Regions from separate parts of the Homo sapiens genome. Here region 2 is linked to region 1. The links come from fine-mapping of genetic effects on gene expression. A gene starts in region 1. The other region holds a variant in brackets. All regions are shown on one strand. Distances are from middle to middle. Region 1 holds the start of LTBR (lymphotoxin beta receptor). Region 2 has its middle 21 kb from the start of LTBR.

Region 1 (8,000 bases):
GAGGTTAGCTTACATACTCTCTAAAATTCCAGCTCTAAAATGCCAGTTGTATTTGATACATAGTTAAAAATTAACAGGGCACAGAAAAATACTTAGATTGTGGAATGAAAAAATCAGGTTACGAAATATTAAAATTACTTCACTTTTAGTAAACAACAACAAAACCCAGTATGTATAAACATGCATAGAAAATGTCCGGGAGGATATATACCACAATGTAACGAGTGGATATTCTAGGTAGTGGCTCTGTGGGTGAGTTTTTAGTTTTGCTTATCTGAAGTCTCTAATTTTCTATAGTGCATGCATTATGACATGGGCTCTGGAGTAAGAAAACCTGAGTACAGGTTCTAATAACACCAGTGACCACCTGTGTGGGTGATCTTGAGTATATCACTTAACCTCTTTGAGCCTCGGTTTCTTCCTTCAGTCCATGAGGATGATAATAGAATCTACTTCATAGCATCATTAAGAAGATTAAATGAGTTAGTAAATGTAAAGTGGTTACAGAGTGCCCAACACACACAGTGAACCTTCTGCCAATTAGTGATGTTACAGTCATTAGAAACAATAGTCATCTACTAGGCTAGCAAGCCAATCAGTCCACAGGAAACAGTCAAGAAAGAGTCAAATGGGAATCTTCTGTCTAATAATAAAAGTATATAGTCTAATAAAGAGGTGTTTGGTCTAGTTAATGGATTGTGTGAAAAAAAAAAACGGATTGTGTAATGTTGGTAAGCCCAAAATGATGACAATAGTAGTTATCATTACATCTCAGTGTGGGATGTGTTCCTTGACATAGTATTACAGTATATATAATTTTAAAAGTGTGTGTGTGTGTGTGTGTGTGTGTGTGTGTAAACTAGCCTAGAGATACTCCAATTTTTTCTGTAAGGAACTTTCTTCTTGCCCAATTCTGGGAGGGAAGTGTTCATCTTTTCCCCATTTTTTTTAAGATGTGGAGCATTAAGGCATTTTCAGAGGCGCCCCCCCCGTGTCCCTCAGCCCTGGTCCCTCACCTGACATCTCTGGGGGCAGTGGCTCTAATGGATTTTTGCAGGTTGTGTCGGACTGGGCAGTGCCTGGAGCTGCCTCCACCAGACCTTGGTTCTCACACCTGCAGAGGAAAAAAAGATGATGACCTTTTCACGCCCTGGCCCACCAGTGTCCCGACTCCACTGGGCAGGCGGGGAGGCTGAAAGTGGTGAGTCGAGTCCGTGGTGTCAAGGATAGGCGCTGGGGGTTGTTAGCAGCTGAGGCTTCTCAGAGGGTGGAAGGAGCTTGGGTGGGGCTGCACTCACCTGGTGTGGGGCTGGCAGCGGGCGCTGGGGGAGGAGGTATTCTGGAAGTGCCCGGCCTTGCAGGGGACGCAGTGGTTGTTACCCTTCCCAACTTCATCTGGCAAGAGAAAGGCAGGCCAGCCAGGGTGAATGGGCAAAAGGGAGGGGCCCTTTGCCGGCCTGTGAGTTTCCTTTAAGCCTCAGGATGCCCATCCACCCCATTGCGTAGCTCTCACCTTTCCCAAGCTCTGCTTTGCTGCCTTTTTTTTTTTTTTTTTTGAGACGGAGTCTTGCTCTGTCGCCCAGGCTGGAGTGCAGTGGCGCGATCTCGGCTCACTGCAAGCTCCGCCTCCCAAGTTCACGCCATTCTCCTGCCTCAGCCTCCCGAGTAGCTGGGATACAGGCGCCCACCACCACGCCCGGCTAATTTTTTGTATTTTTAGTAGAGACGGGGTTTCACTGTGTTAGCCAGGATGGTCTCGATCTCCTGACCTCGTGATCCGCCCACCTCGGCCTCCCAAAGTGCTGGGATTACAGGCGTGGGCCACCACACCCGGCCTACTGCCTACCATTTTGCCCAAGCTTCCCAGTACTGAGAAGAACCACCTCCTGTGTCCCCTGCACCTGTCCCAGTTCCATGTCCCTCCAGAACCCTTCTGTGAGCCTCTGCATGGAATGAGAAGAGGAATTTTAAGCCAAGGATCTGGGGGGTCGCCGTGGACACAGTACCATATTCCCTGCTCCCACTTGAGATCCCTGGCACCCAGCCTCCTTTTCACATCCAGCCCCTCAGGGACCTCTGACCTTTGAGCTCGGCTTCAGTGCCAGGCGGGCAGTCAGAAAGTAGCTCGCAGTGTGTACACTCGAGGGCCCAGGCAGCACAGAACATTCCCGGCTGGCAGCGGCACTGGGTCTTCCGTTTGCTTGTGCAGGGGGCAATCTCCTCGAGGCCCATCACTGGCGGGGAGACGGGAGGGCTCAGGGAGGGGCCAAGCTCCAGGGGATCCAGCCCCCCCGCAGGCACATCCCCACTCACCTGGGTCACAGGGGCGGCACAGCTGGCAGATGGTCAGGTAGTTCCAGTGCTCGTTGTAGGAATTCTCGGCACATGTGGCACAAACTGTGTCCCGGATGCGGCTACATTTAGCTGAGACATAGGTGCCTAGAACGTGAGTGGAGCAGTAGAGCCTCAGGAGACGAGGCTCCACCCTCACCTCCGCTGCCTGTAGTGTGACCCTGGCCTTTCCCTCGGTCTCTCTGGCCCCCCATCATCCTGCCAGTGGCCCTCCGGCTCCCTCTCAGTGAGGTAAGGAAAGAGGAGGCCCAGTGGGGAGGGCCAGTCCCATCTCCTCCACGTGATGTCCAGGGTTTCCCACGCTCGTCTCCAGCAGCCAGTTTTCCTGGGGGACAGTGCCCACCTTCCCTCTGAGGCCGCGAGGGGGCTGGAGCCCCCGTGACCCACTTCCGAGGCCCAGGTTCGTCCTGCCATTGCCTCTCACCTGGCGGGCAGCGGGAGCAGCAGATGCGGTGCTGGGGCTCATAGTATTCCTTTTCCTGGTCCCTGCAGGTCTGGTTCTCCGACGCATATGGAGGCACCTTCAAAGGGAGATGGAGAAGAGGAGAGAAGAATTAGTCAGGGGTCAGCTTGGGAGGGCAGAGGGAATGGAGCGACGGCTGCCCAGATCCCTCTTGCCCACCCTCGCCCACTCCTACCAGGCCCCTTCCTCACCGCCTGGGGCTGCGATGCTGCCAGGAGCCCGAAGAGGCCCAGCACCAGAGGCCCCCAGGCCAGGCCGGGGGCAGAGGTGGCCCAAGGCAGGAGCATGGCGGCCACTCGGCCAGGCGGCCAGCAACGTGGGGGCCTGGGAGGAAGGCAGGAGGCCCGACGTCCTGGGCAGCGGTGGCGGCGGCTGCCCGAGCCCAGAGCCTGGGACGGGACTCAGGGCCGATGTGCACCCCAGGGCCGGGAGCGGCCAGGCCGGGCCTCCAGGGCTCCCATGGCGGAGCTCAGGAAGTGGGAGTGGAGCGAGCTGGCCGCGGGGCGGGGACAGGGAGCGCTGGGAGCCAGGCCGGCCTGTCGCAATCGCAGCCCAGGGAAGAGGAACAGGCTTGTCTGCCTCGATGCGGGGCGGGAGGGGCGGCCGGGAAAGCACGTGAGGGCCGCGGGGCCGGAACCGGCCTCCTCCCTTCTTCGGAAGCCCGATCGGGAGAGCGGACTGCGGACAGCCCTGGCCCAGCCGAGGGAAGGGCGGCGGGCCCGGGGTCAGCCCTTGGACAAGCCTCGCAGGGAGAGCAGAGGGAGTTCCAGAGAGCGCAAGGGACAGCTGGGTGCGGGATCTGGAAAGCGAGGGGCCCAGGACGGGCAGTCATGGAGAGGGCAGGGCGCGGGGACTGCAAGGCCGCAGAAGCAGCTCTGAGACCGAGGAGAACCGGCTGGCAGATGCCCGGGTTCCTCCCCCGTTGTCCTGCCCTACTGTGGGAGTTTTTCAGACAAATTACAAGGGACTAGCAAATCAGCCAGCCCCCCACGCTACCAACCCAGCCCAATCCGCACAGGAGTGGGCACAGGTCACCTAGGAGACCCTTGAGAGCTGTGCAGCTTGCCCTGCTCCCTGTCCTCAGGGAACCTCCCTCCCAAAGAGAGGGGGAGGATATGCGGAGGGGAGTCCTGGGGCCAGCAGGCTGGACCTGGGCACTCAGTCCCTCTGCTCTGGCTTCTTTGCCCATGAACCTTCAAACCCCTTAGAACTGGAGAAAGCTGAGAGCCCACGCAGTCCAGCCCCCTCACCTTAAGCATGGAGAGGGAGGCTAAGGGTGATACATAAGGGAACCGGGATTCCAGGGTGGCCTGGTCTCGTTCCTGCCCTGTTTCATCCTCCCATCTCCCTCAACCCAACACCCCACCCACCCGTGGAGTTACTTGCAGCTGCCCCCTTTTACACGTGGTTCTCTGGTCCCCAAGTTTCCGTCTTCCTAACTCCCACCTGTCCTTGAGGCTTCACTGAGGCTCTGGAAGGCAACCTCTGCCCTAGGTTGCACAGTCCCCGTGAAGACTGCCCTCTGTACCTGGCTGTCTTGTTTGCTTCCCACCAGGCTGTGAGTGCCACCATGGCCCAGGCTGAATCTTCAAGTCTGTGTTCCCCATGCTTAGCAGAGTCTGGCACATACCATGTGCCCAATAGGTATTTATGGAATAAATGAGTGATGGCCACATCACAGAGCCAGTCCACCGCAGAGCCAGCTACAATCTGGGTCTCCTGATGTCTAGGTCCCAACTCATTCCAGCAGTCCTGCCAACTCCTTGTGGCTCAGGGATGTCTCCCTTGGGATGAGGGGCTAACCTCTCTTGAGATAGGTCACTTGGGCACTATCCCCCTCCCTGAAGGACTCTGTTCAGCACTCGTCCTTACACTGGTCTGTCTAACTTCAGGTCTGATGTCTGGACAGGTGCAGGTGATGGGAAGTGTGCATGGGGAGGAGAGGTCACAAAAGGGGGAAAGGACCTGCCTAGGCTGTAGGCATTTCACTCTGTGAGGCTCTCTCCCCTCACCTGGTGCAGGCAGCTCACCGTACAGATGGGCCAAAGATGGCTGGAAAGGGCAGAAGTATCAGAACAGCATGCACTGCGCGGGGCTGCTGAGCCTTCCAGGGCCCTAGCGCTGGGGGCTGGGATGAGAGTCCCTGCTGAGCTCTTAAACGCGTAAAGGAATGTGTGTGTAGCGACCCTAGGTCCTTTTTTCTCTCTCTTCTTTTTACTTTTTACTGTGGAAATTCCACATGCAAGATAATATACCAAAAGAGAAAAAGTAATATTGGGAGTCTCCCATATACTCCTTACCCAGCTTCAACTCACTGTCAGTTTCATTTATTCTGTATACCCCCTCCCCCACCAACGCACACACTCTTCAAATCCCTCATTATTATTTTGAAGTAAATCCCAGACATCATATCATTTCATTTGAAAATATTTCAGGATTTTACCCTAAAAGACAGGGACTCTTTCTCTATTCTATTTTTCTTTTTTTCCCCACCCTGTCTTATGCTGCTGAGACCCTTTCTTTTAATAGAGGTGTAACATATAATACAATGAAACCGTAAGGTACACTGATCTTACAGATACAGCTCAGAGAGTCTTCACTTTTGTGTATTCTTGCATATCCCCCAACTGGTCCAGAACACCTCTTCTCTTCTCTTCTTTTCTCTTTTCCTTTCCATACAGAGTCTCGCTTTGTCGCCCAGGCTGGAGTGCAGTGGTGCAATCTCGGCTCACTACAACCTCTGCCTCCCAGGTTCAAACAATTCTCTGCCTCAACCTCCCGAGTAGCTGGGATTACGGGCGCCTGCCACCATGCCTGGCTGATTTTTGTATTTTTAGTAGAGATGGGGTTTCGCCATGTTGACCAGGCTGGTCTTGAACTCCTGATGTTGTGATCCACCCGCCTTGGCCTCCCAAAGTGCTGGGATTACAGGCGTGAGCCACGGCACCCGGCCCCAGAATGTTCCTTGCACTACAAATGTTTGCTACATGCCCTTCCCAGTCAAAGCTTCCTGCTTCACAGGTAACCACTATGTCCAGACCCCTTTTAACCCCAGCTGGCTGGACTGTATGTTTCTTTCTGCTGCCAGCCGTAAGCTGGCGCTTCAGCCCTCATGGACTCTCTACACCCTAAGGAACGAGCCCTGAGATCTGGGTTTTGATCCTGGCCCCATCACTTTATCTCTGTGTGCCTCTTTATTGTGTCAGTCAGCTACTGGTTTGCTTGCAGGTCTGTGGGATGGAGGTGGGATGGGAGGAGTGAAGCAGCCAGGCTATTTCTCTCCTCTCTGCTTTCTGGCTTCACCTGCAGTTGGTTGTCTTCCTTCCTTCCCCACTTCCATAATCCCATCTCCTACCAGTAGTCCACACTATTTAGTTCCTGCCAAATGGCTCTGGAGGCTTCTTGGTCTTTGATGCTACATCACCCTGCCATCTTTCCAGGCCTAGAGATGGTAGCTGCTTCCCGCTCTGCTGTTTTCTGAGCTGCCTCCCATTGTCTTCTCAGCTCCTCCATCACCCATGTACCAGTTAGTTCTCTGTGTTAAACTTCTTCTGTTTGAAAGACTTAGAGTGTTTCTTGTTTCCCAGCTGGATCACGAAAGACAAATCTTACCAATAAATGGCTACTATAATGCCCAGCCATCCCCAGGAGGATAAAGGGAGACTCCAGGGGTGAGAAATCCACAGGTTCACCGCGGGCAGGGCATTGTCTTTACTCCTGTCCTTTTGTGTTTTTCACCAGAGCCTCCTGAGACTGATTTCCACTGGGCAACACCAGACCCAGACCGAGCACCCCAGGACGCCTAGAAGGTGTGTGAGGGTGGGACTCTTCTCCCAGGCCTTCTTCCGAAGGAGCTGCTGAGAGAGCCTTCTTTCCACAGGCCCATTAGGCATCCAGAAAGGGGGCTGATGGAAATGGATTCTTCTTCTTCTTCTTCTTCTTTTTTTTTTTTTTTTGAGACAGAGTCTCAGTCTGTCGCCCAGGCTGGAGTGCAATGGTGCAATCTCAGCTCACTGCAACCTCCGCCTCCCAGGTTCAAGTGATTTTCCTGGCCTCAGCCTCCCAAGTTGAGTAGCTGGGACTACAGGCATGCGCCAACAGGCCCGGCTAATTTTTGTATTTTTAGTAGAGATGGTGTTTTGCCATGTTGGCCACAGGCTGGTTTTGAATTCCTGGTCTCAAGTCATTTCGCCCACCTTAGCCTCCCAAAGTACTGGGATTACAGGCACGAGCCACTGTACCCGGCCAGGAATGGATTCTTCTAAATACTTTTTCTTTCTCTCTTCTTCTCCACTCTGCTCTTAGCTGACTAGTGCTCTTGGAAATGGTCTGGCAAACACCCAGAAGTGCATAACAGATGAGGGTTGTCCTTTTCCAGAGTATTTGCATTTTCAGTGGTGACAATGCCTTAACCCAGTCTTTTCAACGGGGGTGACTTTGCCCCCCAGAAGTCATTTGGCAATATTTGGAGATGTTTTGGTCACAATGACTCAGGAGGTGCTACTAGCATCTAATAGATGGAAGCCAGGGATGCTGCTGAACATCCTGCACAGGATTGTAGATAGGACAGAATCATCCTGTCCCACCACAAAGAATGATACAGCCGAAAATGTCAATAGTGCCAAGGTTGATAAACCCTGTCTTCAATCAAAGTGATAAACTTCTAGTAGTGAACTTCTTTTTTTGTTTTTTTTTTTGTTTTTTTTTTTTTTGAGACAGAGTCTTGCTTTGTCTCCCAGGCTGGAGTGCAGTGGCACGATCTTGGCTCACTCCAAGCTCCACCTCCCCGGTTTTATGCCATTCTCCTGCCTCAGCCTCCCGAGTAGCTGGGACTACAGGCGTGCACCACTTATGCCCAGCTAATTTTTTTTGTAATTTTAGTAGAGACGGGGTTTCACCATGTTAGCCAGGATGGCCTCGATCCCCTGACCTCATGATCCACCCGCCTCGGCCTCCCAAAGTGCTGGGATTACAGGCGTGAGCCACCATGCCCGGCCAACTTCTAGTAGTGAACTTCTAAGTAAACTGCCAGGGGACTAGATGAAGAGTGGCATTTTTCTGGTCCATCATTTTAAATGAAAGAGAAATCTGTACCACATAAGGGCAGCTGAAAGGACTGTTGTCTTCCACAGTGGGCAGCCCCCAGTGTGAAGTGGCTAATTAGCTCCAAGTAGTAAGAATAAAG
Region 2 (15,925 bases), 22 kb before region 1:
TTCTATGGGTCCAGCATTACCCTACTACAAAAACCAGACAAAGACATTACAAGGAAATACAACTACAGACTAATACATATATATTTTTGAAGCAGAGTCTTGCCTCTGTCGCTCAGGCTGGAGTGCAGTGGCACGATCTCCACTCACTGCAACCTCCGCCTCCCTGGTTCAAGCGATTCTCCTACTTTGGCCTCCTGAGTAACTGGGATTACAGGCACCCACCACCACGCCTGGCTAATTTTTGTGTTTGTAGTAGAGACGGGGTTTCATCACATTGGCCAGGCTTGTCTTGAACTCCTGACCTCAGGGGATCCCCCTGCCTCAGCCTCCCAAAGTGCTGGGATTACAGGGCTTGGTCCACCACGCTCAGCCCCAGTAGACAATTATGGCAAGTTTTCAGGATACAAGGTTAATACACAAAGGTCAATTGCTTTCCTAGATATCATCAATGAACAAATAGACTTTGAAATTAAATACACAATACCAAGTATATTAGAAGCCTCCCCCAAAAGAAACACTTAGGTATAACAAAATATGTACAAGATCCACATGGGGGATGGGTACAGTGGTTGACTCCTGTAATCCCAGCACTTTGGGTGGCCAAGGTGGATGGATCACCTGAGGTTAGGAGTTCTAGACCAGCCTGACCAATATGGTGAAACTCCACCTATACTAAAAATACAAAAAATAGCCGGGCGTGGTGGCAGGCGCCTGTAATCCCAGCTACTCGGGAGGCTGAGACAGGAGAATTGCTTGAACCCAGGAGGCTGAGCTTGTAGTGAGCAGAGATCGTGCCACCACACTCCAGCCTGGGAGACAGAGTGAGACTCCATCTCAAAAAAAAAAAAAAAATCATCTATATGAGGAAAACTACAAAATTCTGATGAAAGAAATCAAAGAAAATAAATGGAAGGATATTCCATGTTCCTGGAGAAGAAGACTCAATATTGTCAAGATGTCAGTTCTTTCCAACTTGATCTATAGATTCAATGCAATCCCAGTAAAACTCTTAGCAAGCTATTTTATGGATATTGCCAAACTGATTATAGAGTTTATATGGAGAAGCAAAAGATCCAGAATAGCCAACACAATATTGAAGAAGTTCAAGACTAGCCTGGCCAACATATAGTGAAACCCAGTCTCTACTAAAAATACAAAATTAGCCAGGCGTGGTGGTGCACGCCTGTAATCCCAGCTACTTGGGAGGCTGAGGCAGGTGAATCACTTGAACCTGGGAGGCGGAGATTGCCGTGAGCCGAGATCGAGGCATTGCACTCCAGCATGGGCAACAGAGCGAGACTCCATCTTAAAAAAAAAAAAAACATATCTGAACATTTCCTTTCCCTGCTTAAAGTCCTTTAGTGGACTTCTGGTCCAAACTGAAACGATGGCAAGAGTGTTGCTCCCAGCTATGCAACAAGAAAAGAGCTGGAAAAGCTGCACATGAATGACTTTTCTGGATCTCCTAAGAGAATTGAGGTCACAGGGCAGACAACCTGAAACCGAGAGAGAGACAGGTACCTACAGGGGGAAACAGTACCTGAGCATTCCTTACTTAAGTAAGAAAATTAAGCTGGACATTTTTAACAATTAATAGTGGCCTACTGTTGGTGATTAAGAGAGTATGAAGTCCCTGGAAGCTGCAGACAAAGGGAGTCTTGCGCTTTCTTTCAGGCTTTTCTTTCAGGACCCCCATCAATCACCCACAGGAAGATAGGTGAAATGGGAGAATTCTGACACCCTCTGCTCCATGGTGCTTGCTGGGGGTGGGGAACGGAACAGCAGCTATGGCCAAGACTCCATTCCTTTAGGACAAGACTTCATCTGCAAGGGGAAGGTCATAAAAACTTACAGGCAGGCCGGATGCTGTGGCTCATGCCTATAATCCCAGCACTTTGGGAGGCTGAGGTGGGTGGGTCACTTGAAGTCAGGAGTTTGAGACCAGCCTGGCCAACGTGGCGAAACCCCATCTCTACTAAAAATACAAAAATTAGCCAGGTGGTGGGCACCTGTAATCCCAGCTACTTAGGAGGCTGAGGCAGGAGAATCGCTTCAACCCATCACGCAGAGGTTGTAGTGAGCCAACATCGCACCACTGCACTTCAGCCTGGGGGACAGAGTGAGACTCTGTCTCAAAAAAACAGAAAACACAAAACTTATGGGCAGAGGGCATTGGTGGAAACCCACTGAAATTAGGGGAAGGGAACAGGGGAAAAAAGAAGAAGTTCTTCCTTTTAGTGAGGACCGGAATAATTGCCAGGCCAACCATTATACCTGGAGGAAGGGCAATTATGAAGGCCACACTCCCAAGATCCAGGTTCATAGTGCCTACCTAAGGCTGAGCCTCAATCATAACACAAGGGAACACATAACCTCCTTCATAGCCTACCACCACATGACAGGCCTCCAGTGAAAAATAATACAAGAATGTATCTGGGAGAACTTGCAAGAGACAGACTTTATTTAGGGAACAGTGCAAAAGGAAGATACAAATCCAAGAGACAAAAACAAGGCACCACTAGAGGAATTTTAAGCCCCTGATGCACTGAGGATAATAATATATGTTGGTGCAAAAGCAAACTTCAAACCCAGCCCTCCTGACTACATTAATGGAAATCTCTATACTAGAGAAGTAGCAGAAAGAAATGAATGCTTATCTTCAAGAATACAAAATATTTATGTCAGTATCTGTTGTGTTATACAGCATATCCAGCTTTCAATGAAAACCACAAGGTATACAAAAAGGAAAGAAAAAACACAATCTGGACTGGGCATGGTGGCTCACACCTGTAGTCTCAGTACTTAGGGAGGCCAAGGCAGGCGGATGACGAGGTCAGGAGTTCAAGATCAGCCTGGCCAGTATGGTGAAACCCCTCTCTACAAATACAAAAATTAGCTAGGCATGGTAGCGCATGCCTGTCAACCCAGCTACTGGGGAGGCTGAGGCAGGAGAATTGCTTGAACCCAGGAAGCAGAGGTTGCAATGAACAGAGATCATGCCACTGCACTCCAACCTGGGTGACAGAGCAATACTCCGTTTCAAAAAAAAGAAAAAGACACAATCTAAAAAGACAAAAAAAAAAAATCAGAACCAGACTCAGATATGACATCAGACATGGAATTTAAAGTAACATGATTATGTTAAAGGATTTAATGGAAAAGGTAGACAACATGCCAAAAGAAGATGGATAAATTCAGCAGAGGAAACCATAAGAATAAAATGGAAATGCTTGAAATAAAATCGTGGTGACAGAAATGAAGAACACCTTTGACTGGTTCATCAGTAGACTCAGTATAGCTGAGAAAAGAATCAGTGACCTTGGGTGTAGAGGTCAATAGAAATTTCCCAAACTCCCTTTCCAACTTGGACATGGCAGAATGGCTCCCACAAAGAAGGGTGGCGAGAAGAAAAAGGGCCGTTCTGCCATCAACGAAGTGGTGACCCGAGAATACACCATCAACATTCACAAGCGCATTTGTGGAGTAGGCTTCAAGAAGCGTGCCCCTCGGGCACTCAAAGAGATTCGGAAATTTGCCATGAAGGAGATGGAAACTCCAGATGTGCGCATTGATACCAGGCTCAACAAAGCTGTCTGGGCCAAAGGAATAAGGAATGTCCGACACCGAATCCATGTGCGGCTGTCCAGAAAACGTAATGAGGATGAAGATTCACAAATAAGCTCTATACTTTGGTTACCTATGTATTTGCTACCACTTTCAAAAATCTACAGACAGTCAATGTGGATGAGAACTAATCGCTGATAGTCAAATACATCAAATAAAGTTATAAAATTGCAAAAAAATAAAGAGGAATTACCCAAACTGAAGTGCAAAAAAAGAGTGGGTAAAAAACAAAACAGAACAACAACAAAAAAGAAAGAAAGAAGACACCATCCAAGAATACCAAATGAGTTAACATGCCCATAATTGGAATTCCAGAAGGAGAAGAAAGACTTGGACAGGATTTGTCTAATCAGACTTAGTTAAACAAACAAACAAACGAACAAAAAGAATAAGACAGGAGAAACATTTGAAGAGATAATGGCTTAGAATTATCCAAAATTAGTAACAGACAGAAAAGCACAGATCAAGGAAGCTCAGAGAACACCAAGCAGGATAAATACCAAAACAACACAGCCCCTCACCAAACCCATGCATCTAGGCATATCATATTAAAACTGCTGAAAACCAAAGAGAAAGAAAATCTGGAAGTCAGCCAAGGGGGAAAAAACATAATATCTTACCGAGGAGCGAGGATAAGAATTACAGCAGACTGCTAGTCAGAAACAATAAAAGCAAAATGAAATGGAGTAATATCTTTTTTTTTTTTTTTTTTGAGATGGAGTCTCGCTCCATCACTCAGGCTGGAGTGCAGTGGCATGATCTTGGCTCACTGCAACCTCCGCCTCCCGGGTTCAAGTGATTCTCCTGCCTCAGCTAGGTGCCTGCCATCATACCCAGCTAATTTTTGTATTTTTAGTAGAGACGGGTTTTCGCCATGTTGGCCAGGCTAGTCTCAAACTCCTGACTTCAGGTGATCCACCAACCTTGGCCTCCCAAAGTGCTAGGATTACAGGCGTGAGCCACTGTGCCTGGCCCAAATTAAGAGTTTTCTATTTTTATTTTTATTTTTTTAGAGACGGGGTCTCACTACGTTTCCCAGGATGGTCTGAAACTCCTGGACTCCAGTGATCCTCCCACCTCAGCCTCCCAAAATGCTGGGATTACAAGCATTAGCAACTACACCAGGCCAAAATTAAAAGTTTATCAGACAAACAGAAACTGAGGAAGTTGATTGCCAGCAGACCTACTTTATAATAAATGTCAAAGCAAGTTCTCTAAGAAGAAGAGGCTGGGTGTGGTGGCTCACGCCTGTAATCCCAGCACTTTGGGGGGCCAAGGCGGGTGATCACTTGAGGTCAGGAGTTTGAGACCAGCCTGGCCAACATGGTGAAACCCTGTCTCTACTAAAAACACAAAAATTATCTGGGCGTGGTGGTGGGCGCCTGTAGTCCCAGCTACTCAAGTGGCTGAGGCAGGAGAATTGCTTGAACCCGGGAGGCGGAGGTCGCAGGGAGCCGAGATTGTGTCAGCCTGGGTTGAACAGAGTGAAACTTCGTCTCAAAAAAGAAAGAAGAAGAAGAAATATAATCAAAATCTTGGATCTATACAAAGAAACAACGTACTGTAGTTTATAGAATACCATTTACAATAGCAGCCCCCATGAAGTTTTTAGGTATAAATATAACAAAATACGTGGGAGATATGTGTGCTAAAAACTACAAAATACTGACGAAAGAAATCAACATGGGGCCGGGCATGGTGGCTCCTGCCTGTAATCCCAGCACTTTGGGAGGCCGAGGCGGGCGGATCACTTGCGGTCAGGAGTTCAAGACCAGTCTGGCCAACATGGTGAAACCCCGTCTCTACTAAAAATACAAAAATTAGCCCAGTGTGTTGGCACACGCCTGTAATCCCAGCTACTTGGGAGGCTGAAGCAAGAGAATTGCTTGACCCCAGGAGGCGGAGGAGGCGGTGAGCCAAGACTGCACCACTGCACTCCAGCCTGGGCGATGGAGATTCCGTCTCAAGAAATAAATAAATAAATAAATAAATAAATAAATAAATAAAAGAGAAAGAAAGAAAAGAAAAACTGAATGCTACAAGTTCAGCCCATTACTAACCAGTTCCAGACAAATTGGCTTTTTTCTTTTTTCTTCTTATTTTCCTCTGGCTTTTCCCCTCATTTTAAAAATGGAGAGGTAATCGTGCCTCTCATGAGCGAATAGTTTTAGTATGCTTAGAACACTGTCCTGTACATAGTAAGCATTCAACATATGTTGGCTAATACTACTGAAGCCAATTGTAACAGTAGTATTAGAAGCCGTAATAATATTACCCCAGTCAAATATGTCCATAATTGGCAATAGGGAAAGAATTGCTGCCACTCAGCAGTATTTGGAGTATTGAATGTCATTGTTTACTTTTTCTGGAAGGAGCGTGACCTAAGACACTGATCTAAACTGAATGTGCATGGCTAATGGTGTGGATAGACAGAGATTTTAAGTGGGCAAAAGTGAAGGTTGTGTTGACAAGAAGTTTCAGGAAACAGTGATGTGGATGAATTTCCCAGAACGGTCCCAGAATATGAGAATAATGTCCCACGTGAATGCTAATCGAAATTCCCACTCTTCAGAGGAGGCTATCAGCAATCAGGTACACATCAACCATATGGCTGTCATGTAGTCTCTTCGTATCACCCCACTTACTGCCCAAGTGATTTATTTGTAAACAATGTGGCCAGCGTGGTGGCTCACGCCTATAATGCCAGCACTTTGGGAGGCCGAGGTGGGTGGATCATCTGAGGTCAGGAGTTTGAGACCAGCCTGGCCAACATGGTGAAACCCCATCTCTACTAAGAATACAAATATTAGCCGGGCCTGGTGGCGGGTGACTGCAATCCCAGCTACTCGGGAGGCTGAGGCAGGAGAATCACTTGAACCTGGGAGGTGGAGGTTGTAGTGAGCTGAGATCACGCCATTGCACTCCAGCCTGGGTGACGGAGTGAGACTCTATCTCAAAAAAAAAAAAAAAAAATGTGACTAGGGTGGCAGGCAGTGGTAGAGGTTATACTTGAGCTCTATAGTATAGACTTAGCTCACCAAGGCTGACCTCTGGATGCTGATGCTGCTAAGTGTCCCATATGTCAGGGGAAGTATTCTTGTATTCTTGCAAGTATTTTGTCATGGATGGGGCAGGGATTTGTCTTCACTGAGATAAACACTTACTCTAGATTTGGATATGCTTCACTTACATGCTATTGCTAGCAGGACCATCAATGAACTTACTGAACACTTCATACCTCATATCTCACAACGTCTTTTTGGACCCATTTCTATAAGTTATACAAAAAGGGTAAGGTAATGCATGGATGACCATGGGACTCAGTAGTTCTAATGTGTACCACATTCCTTATAAGTAGAAATCTCAATTTTTGGAAGCCTCAGTTAAAGTGGCATGTAGTCATTTTGCACCCTCTTGGAGTACTGTTCAATTTTCGACATTGTATATGTGCTTAATAGTGACTAAGAATAGGCATAATTTCTTCTGTAGCCAAAATGCATTGGTTAAAGAAAGGAGAGGTAGGAGTGGAGTGGTGCCTCTCCTATTACACTTAACAGCCAACTCGAGAAAGTTATGCTTTTCATGTTTGCAACTCAGGGCTCTCTGCTGCCTTGAGTTGTTTTAGAACTCCTTGTTTTAGAAAAGGAGGAGTACATGCTGCCACCAGTCGTCACGGAGATGCCTCTGTTTATCGATTTACTAAAAAGGATTTATTTTTGTATGACGTTTAAAGCAGTTTAAATTACATTCATTTGCTGACTTAGAGAACTGTGGGAAGTCTTGACTTATGGGAGTTGGGCTTTTGGACTTCTCCTCTGTTTGCCAGTTTTCTTTTTGTTTCTGTCTCCCCTTTTCTTTCCCCCGTCTGTCTTGGGCTATCTCTTTTTAGGCGCATAGGCAAGGAGCTGTGACCGACAATTTGAATGTTTTTAAAAATACTCTCATAAAAAACACACCTTTGGCCGGGCGCGGTGGCTCACGCCTGTAATCCCAGCACTTTGGCAGGCTGAGGCAGGCGGATCACAGGAGGTCAGGAGTTTGAGACCAGCCTGGCCAACATGGTGAAACCCGGTCTTTACTAAAAATACAAAAATTAGCAGGGCGTGGTGGAGCGCGCCTGTAGTCCCAGCTACTCGGGAGGCTGGGGCAGGAGAATTGCTTGAATCTGGGAGGTGGAGGATGCAGTGAGCCGAGATTGCGCCATTGCACTCCAGCCTGGGAGACAGAGTGAGACTCTGTCTCAAAAAAAAAGAAAACAAAACATTTTTTTCTGCAATACTTTTCAAAGAATGGTTTAAAAGCAATGACAATCCATGATCAGTGAGAATTTTCACTCAGATTATGGTCTCTCAATTCCTTTTTCAAAGAGCAGACAGGCTACTTGGAGACTTGGGTAAATTTATGGATTATAATAGATTTAAGAGGAACAGCCATCAGATGCCATATTTGGAGCTGGTGGGACCTCATTCAGACAAAATCAGTATAAAAAATATTTCAGACAATTCAGGATTTCCTTTCTTTAAGGGCTAGGTATTGGATAATGTTATAAGTCATTTTTAAAATTTTCTTAGGTGTGAAATCTTAGTGTATTTTCTCTATATTCATATCTGTTAGGATGTTTGTGAAAATATTCATGATTAAAATCACATTTTTGAGATTTCATGTTTGGGATATTTTTTAGACTCCCTCATCCACCATTGTGGGTGCAGATAATGAAACAAAATGGCAAGTTGTTGGTAATTTTTGAAGCACGTGTGACGAGCCCTGGGAAGTGCAGTATTCTCTATATTTTTGTGTCTACTTCAGTATGTCCATGACCACTCCCTTTCCCCTCCAAAAAAAAGTTAAAATTTAAAAAAAGCTGGCTAAATTAAAAAAAAGAAAAGAAAAAGGAAATCAACAAAGATATAAATAAATGATTAGGTGTAGGCTGGGTGGGGGCTGGGTGTGGGCTGGGTGTGGGCTGGGTGCACCTGTAATCCCAGTGCTTTGGGAGGTTGAGGCAGGGGGATCACTTGAGGCCAGAAGTTCGAGACCAGCTTGGACGACACAGAAAGACGCAGTCTCTACACAAAATAAAAAATTACTCAGGCATGGTGGCATGTGCCTGTACTCTCGGCTACTTAGGAGACTGAGGTGGGAAGATCACTTGAGCACAGGAGTTCAAGGTTGCAGTGAGCTATGATTGCACCACTGCACTCTAGCCTGCACTCTAGTCTGGGTGACAGAGTGATACCTCGCCTCAAAAAAAAAAAAAAAA[AG/G]GTATAAATAAATAGAAAGATATACTGTATTCATAGATTAGAAAATTCAATATTGTAAATATGTTAATTCTCCCCAGTTTGATCTATAGATTCAATGCATTATCAATCAAAATCATAGGAAGCTTTTTTTTGATAGAAATTGACAAACTGATTCTAAAATTTATATGAAAAGGGAAAGAAATGAAAAGGAACTAAAAAAATAGTAGGAGAAATTACTCTACCACTTATTAGACTTATTAGAAAGCAATTAGTGTGGTATTAGCGAAAGAGTAGACAACTTAGGTGAATAGAGCCAATAGAGAGACCAGAAATAAACCCACACAAATAATGTCAACTGATTTTTGACAAAGATGCAAAGGCAATCCAGTGGTGAAAGAACAGTCTTTTCAACAAACAGTGCTGGAAAAATTAGACATTCATATGTAAAAACAAAACCAAAAAACCTCAACACGTACCTCACACTTACACCAAAAAATGGCTCATAAACTTAAATGTAGAAAGTAAGACATCTAGAAAAAAGCACAGGAGACCCTGTGTGTGTGTAACCTTAGGTTTGGTGATAAGTTTTCTGGTACTGGAAACACAATTCATAAAGAAAAAAATGATGAATTGTACCTTATCACAAATAAAAACTTTTGTTCTGTGAAAGATAGGTTGAGAAAATGAATAGACAATCCACAGCCTGGGAGAAAATATTTGCAAATAATGTATCTGATAAAGGACTTCTATCCAGAATAAATAATTCTTCTTTTTCTTTCTTTCTTTCTTTCTTTTTTTTTTTTTTTGAGACAGAATCTCACTCTGTCACCCAAGCTGGAGTGCAGTGGCGTGATCTTGGCTTACGGCAACCTCTGCCTCCCGTGTTCAAGCGATTCTCCTGCCTCAGCCTCCTGAGTAGCTGGGATTATTACAGGCACGTGCCACCACACCTGGCTAATTTTTGTATTTTGCGTTTTTTTTTTTTTTTTTGAGATGGAGTTTTGCTCTTGTTGCCAAGGCTGGATTGCAATGGCACGATCTCGGCTCACCACAACATGTGCCTCCCCGGTTAAAGTGATTCTCCTGCCTCAGCCTCCCGAGTAGCTGGGATTACAAGCATGCTCCACCATGCCCGGTTAATTTTGTATTTTTAGTAGAGACGGGCTTTCTCCATGTTGGTCAGGCTGGTCTTGAACTCCTGACCTCAGATGATCCGCCCACCTCGGCCTCCCAAAGTGCTGGGATTACAGGCGTGAGCCACCATGCCCGGCCTAATGTTTGTATTTTTAGTAGAGATGGGGTTTCGCCATGTTGGTCACACTGGTCTCGAACTCCTGACCTCAAGCGATTCAGCCGCCTAGGGCTTCCAAAGTGCTGAGATTATAGGCGTGAGCCACTGCACACTGCCGAATGATCCAATTTAATAACAAGCAAAATATCTAAAGAGACACTTCAGAAAATAAAATACCTGGATGGCAAATAAGCATATGAAAGTTGGTTAACAGCATTTGTCATTAGAGAAATGAAAATTAAAACCACAATGAGGTACCACTGCTCACCTACTACAATTTCTAAAACACTGCCACCAACCACCAAATGCTGGTCTTACTAGAATTTCTAAAACACTGCCACCAACCACCAAATGCTGGTCTTACTAGAATTTCTAACACACTGCCACCAACCACCAAATGCTAGTCGTGCTACAATTTCTAAAACACTGCCACCAACCACCAAATGCTGGTCTTACTACAATTTCTAAAACACTGCCACCAACCACCAAATACTGGTCTTACCAGAATTTCTAAAACACTGCCACCATCATCACGAGGTCAGGAGATTGAGACCATCCTGGCTAACATGGTTAAACCCCACCTCTATTAAAAATAAAAAAAATTAGCTGGGTGTGGTGATGGGCGCCTATAGTCCCAGCTACTCAGGAGGCTGAGGCAGGAGAATGGCGTGAACCCGGGAGGCGGAGCTTGCAGTGAGCCGAGATCGCGCCACTGCACTCCAGCCTGGGTGACAGAGCAAGACTCCGTCTCAAAAAAATAAATAAATAAAATAAATAAAAATAAAAAATAAAAAAAAACACTGCCACCATCACCAAATGCTGGTCCTACTAGAATTTCTAAAACACTGCCACCAACCACCAAATGCTGGTCTTACTAGAATTTCTAAAACTGCCACCAACCACCAAATGCTGGTCTTACTAGAATTTCTAAAACACTGCCACCATCACCAAATGCTGGTCTTACTAGAATTTCTAAAACACTGCCACCATCACCAAATGCGGGTGAAGATGTGCAACAGGAACTCTCATTCATTGCTTTTGGGAATGCAAAATGATATAGTCACTTTGGAGACAGGTTGGCAGTTGCTTTTTCCTTTTTCTTTTCTTTTTTTTTTTCACTTTGTGAGACAGTCTCGCTCTGTCTCCCAGGCTGGAGTGCAGGGTGGGATCACATCTCACTGCAGCCTCGACCTCCCGGGCTCTAGAAATCCTTTCACCTCAGCCCCTCAAGTAGGTGGGACTAGAAGCACACATCAGCACACCAGGCTAATTTTTGTATTTTTTTTTGTGAGACAGGGTTTAGCCATGTTGCCTAGGCTAGTCTCGAGCTTGTGGACTTAAGCGATCTGCCTGTCTCAGCATAAGGAAAGACAGAAACTGTCACAGATCAGAGAAGACTAAATATTAAGGGATCATAATCACTAAGTGCAATGTGGTATCCTGGATTGGATTCTGGAACAGAAAAAGGATTTAAGGAAAAAAACTGGTGAAATCTAAATAAAATCTGTAGTTTAGTTGATATGTTAATTTCTTAATTAGTTTTGACAAATGTATCATGGCTATGTGAGATATTAACATTAAGGGCAGCTGGGTGAAAGGTATACCAAAACCCTCTGTACTATCTTTGCAACTTTTCTGTAATTCTAAAATTTTTCCAAACTAAAAACTCATTAAGAAAAAAAACCCAAATGAGCCAGGCGTGATGGTTCATGTCTGTAATCCCAGCACTTCGGGAGGCCGAAATGGGCAGATGGCTTGAGGCCAGGAGTTCAAGGCCAGCTTGGCCAACATGGCGAAACCCCGTCGCTACTAAAAATACAAAAATTAGCCAGGTGAGTGGGCGCCTGTAATCCCAGCTACTCGGGAGGCTGAGGCAGGAGAATCGCTTGAACCTGGGAGGCAGAGGTTGCAGTGAGCCAGGATAGCACCGCTGCACTCCAGCCTGAGCGACAAGAGGGAGACTCCATCTTAAAAACAAACAAACAAACAAATACTAACTGATGGGGATATAAGTCAAAATAGGAAAGTGGATATCTCTGGGATGTCATATGTCTGCCAGAATATAAACTGGAACTCAAGCAGTAAGCATGACTGAGTGGAAAGTGGCATGAAGTTATCTTCTAAGGAAGTAAAATGTTGCATATCTTCTGTGATGGTAACATGGGTATATACCTATGTAACACTTCTTCAGGCTATACACTTAAGATTAATATACTTTATATACTTTACAGGCCGGGTGAAGTGGCTCATGACTGTAATCCAAGTACTTTGGGAGGCCAAGGCAGGTGGATCACTTGAGGTCAGGAGTTCGAGACCAGCCTGGCCAACATGGTGAAACCCCATCACTACTAATAATACAAAAATTAGCCAGGTGTGGTGGTGCACGCCTGTAGTCCCAGCTACTAGGGAAGCTGAGACAGGAGAATCTCTTGAACCTGGGAGGCAGAGGTTGCAGTGAGCCGAGATTATGCCACTGCACTTCAGCCTGGGCAACAGAGTGAAAAAAAAAATATATATACACACACACACACACACACACACACACATATTTTATATATATGTGTGTATATATACACTATATACACATATTTTATATGTATGTGTGTATATATACACACACACACACATATAACATATATATTTATATATATATACTTTACTACACTGGAAAAAAATTTTACTGGTTTCCTATTGCTCTTAGGGTAAAGTTCAAAATTGCTGTAGTCTGTAAGTCTGAATGACGTGTTACCCGCCTACTTCTCTAGCTTCATCTCTCTATTCCCAAGTTCCAGCCAAACTATTCTTCCTATCACAGGGCCTTTGCACGTACCATTTAACCCACCAGCAGAGCTCTCCTCTCCAACACCCCTTCAATTTGGCTAGCCCTTATTTATTCTTCAGGTTGTATCTTAAATTTCCTCAGGGAGGAATTTCCTCATCTCCAGACCTAGAATCGGTCACTGGTTATATGTTGTGCTTCTCTTTTGTAGCACTTGTCTACAAAAGCAATAATTGTGATTATTTTACAAGCTCCAGAAGTTTATGTATCAGGTCTGTCTCGTTGGCTGTTGTATCTTAAGATGACTAGTACATAGTAAATTCTCACTTAATGTTTACCAAATGTTAATTTGAATGTGAGGCTCAGATTAAACAAACTAATACCCAAGGCCATAAAATATGAGCTGGGACCCACGCCCACCAATAAATCCTGTTGACTCTATCTCTAAGGCATATCTCCAACCTTCCACCTTTCTCCATCTCCCTATTGCAGTAGCCTTTGATCTGGTCTTTCCGTTTCTATTATTTATTCATTATCCATTGGATTATTATGAAATAATAAGATATGGATACTTCCTTAGCATAATAAAATAAATATACGTATTTCAACTGCTGCTTAATGAGAAAATACTGGAAGTATTGCCCTTAAAATCAGGATTGAGACAGAGCTGTCCATTACTATTTACTATTGTTCTGGAGGTACTATGAGATGCATTTAGATGAGATTTAAAAATATTAGGGCCAGGCGCGGTGGCTCACGCCTGTAATCCCAGCACTTTGGGAGGCCAAGGTGGGCAGATTGCTTGAGCCTAGGAGTTCAATACCAGCCTGGGCAACATGGCAATAACTTGTTTCTAGAAAAATTATTATGAAATTAGCATTATTTGTAGGTGATAACCTAAGAAAATTAATTGAAAAACTGTTATAGGCCAGGTGCGGTGGCTCACACCTGTAATCCCAGCACTTTGGGAGGCCAAGGTGGGCAGATTGCTTGAGCCTAGGAGTTCGGTACCAGCCTGGGCAACATGGCAATAACTTGTTTCTAGAAAAATTACTATGAAATTAGCATTATTTGTAGGTGATAACCTAAGAAAATTAATTGAAAAACTGTTATAGGCCAGGTGTGGTGGCTCACACCTGTAATCCCAGCACTTTGGGAGGCCAAGGTGGGCAGATTGCTTGAGCCTAGGAGTTCGGTACCAGCCTGGGCAACATGGCAATAACTTGTTTCTAGAAAAATTATTACAAAATTAGCATTATTTGTAGGTGATAACCTAAGAAAATTAATTGAAAAACTGTTATAGGCCAGGCGCGGTGGCTCACGCCTGTAATCCCAGCACTTTGGGAGGTCGAGGTGGGCAGATCATAAGGTCAGGAGATCGAGACTATCCTGGCTAACACGGTGAAACCCCGTCTGTACTAAAAATACAAAAAATTAGGCGGGCGTGGTGGCGGGCGCCTGTAGTCTCAGCTACTAGGGAGGGTGAGGCAGGAGAATGGCGTGAACCCGGGAGGCGGAGCTTGCAGTGAGCTGAGATCACACCACTGCACTCCAGCCTGGGTGACAGAGTGAGACTCTGTCTCAGAAAAGAAACAAAAACAAAACAAAACAAAAAAACTATTATAGATCATGAGGGAATTCAGTAGGTGGCTGGGGAAAAAGAAAGAAAACAAAACTAAAAAATCCCATTTTTATAGCACTTATAAAGGTAAAACACCAAGGAATGACTATAATGAGAAATGCCCATATTAAGGAAACATTAAAATGCTACTGAGGACACAAAGAGGAGGGTATCAACAAATAGAAGGGTATATCATGTTCTTGAAAAGAAGACCCGGCCCGGCACGGTAGCTCATGCCTGTAATCCCAGCACTTTGGAAGGCTGAGGCAGGTGGATCACTTGAGGTCAGGAGTTCGAGACCAGCTTGGCCAATATGGTGAAACCCCATCTCTACTAAAAATACAAAAATTAGTCGGGCATGGTAGCATGCACCTGTAATCCCAGCTACTCAGGAGGCTGAGGCAGGAGAATCGCTTGAACCCGGGAGGCGGAGGTTGCAGTGAGCCGAGATCGCACCACTGCACTCCAGCCTGGGTGACAGAGCGAAACTCTGTCTCAAATTAAAAACAAACAAACAAACCCAACACACTAATTGATTTGTAAATTCAATACAATCTCAAAACACATCCTCAAAGGAGCCTTTCTTTTGGAGGGGGAGTGAACTAAATAAACAGGTCCTAAAATTCATGTGGAAAAGGAAGAAAATATAGTTAGAAAAATTCTTAAAAACAGAGAATAAAAGGAGCTACTGGCCCTAATAGATATTAAAATATAAAGCTAAAACAATTGAAAGACTGTAATGTTGGCAAATTGAAAAGACGGATCAATGAGAGAGAATTGAAAATCCAGAAGTAAATTCAAACTTGCACAAAAACTTGGCTTATCATAACAGTAGTTTTAAATTAGTGAAGAAAAAATTATTGTTCAATAGATGACTGGAGATAAAAAGATAACATTTGAAAACTAATAGAAATATAGGAGGCCAAGTGTGATGGCTCACACCTGTAATCCCAGCACTTTGAAGACTGAGGCAGAAGGAGCTCAGGAGTTTGAGACCAGCCTGGGCAACATGGTGAAACCTCATCTCTACAAAAAATTTAAAAAGTAACCTGGCGTGGTGGTGTGTGTCTGTAGTCCCAGCTACTGGAGAGAGGCTGAGGTGGGAGAATCACTTGAGCCTGGGAGGTGGAGGCTGCAGAGAGTTGTGATTGGGCCACTGCACTCCAGCCTGGGTGACAGAGCAAGACCCTGTCAAAAAAAAAAAAAAAAAGAAAAATAGAGATATGAACAGTCAGTAGAAAATAAATTACAACTGGCTCTTTAACATATGAAATGTTCACTCATATGAAATGAAATACTCATTCACAGTGAAGTGAAAAACTTCACTCGCAATAAGAAATCCAAATAAAAATTACACTGAGATAACTTTT

The links.
Region 2: its variant is fine-mapped to the expression of LTBR in synovium (Steinberg 2020, PIP 0.95).

Annotation. Positions count from the first base shown.
Region 1 is chr12:6,379,461-6,387,460 of GRCh38, reverse strand. It overlaps LTBR (lymphotoxin beta receptor), which reads right to left and starts at 3,299. Exons shown (of 10, transcript NM_002342.3): 1 at 3,007-3,299; 2 at 2,777-2,873; 3 at 2,314-2,439; 4 at 2,082-2,234; 5 at 1,299-1,395; 6 at 1,017-1,114. The coding sequence starts at 3,102. RefSeq lists an enhancer at 3,381-4,246.
Region 2 is chr12:6,397,467-6,413,391 of GRCh38, reverse strand. It overlaps the pseudogene RPL31P10. Among named protein-coding and RNA genes, the nearest start is that of LTBR, 21 kb to the right of the region's middle. The variant AG/G (reference allele first, on the strand shown) is at 8,885.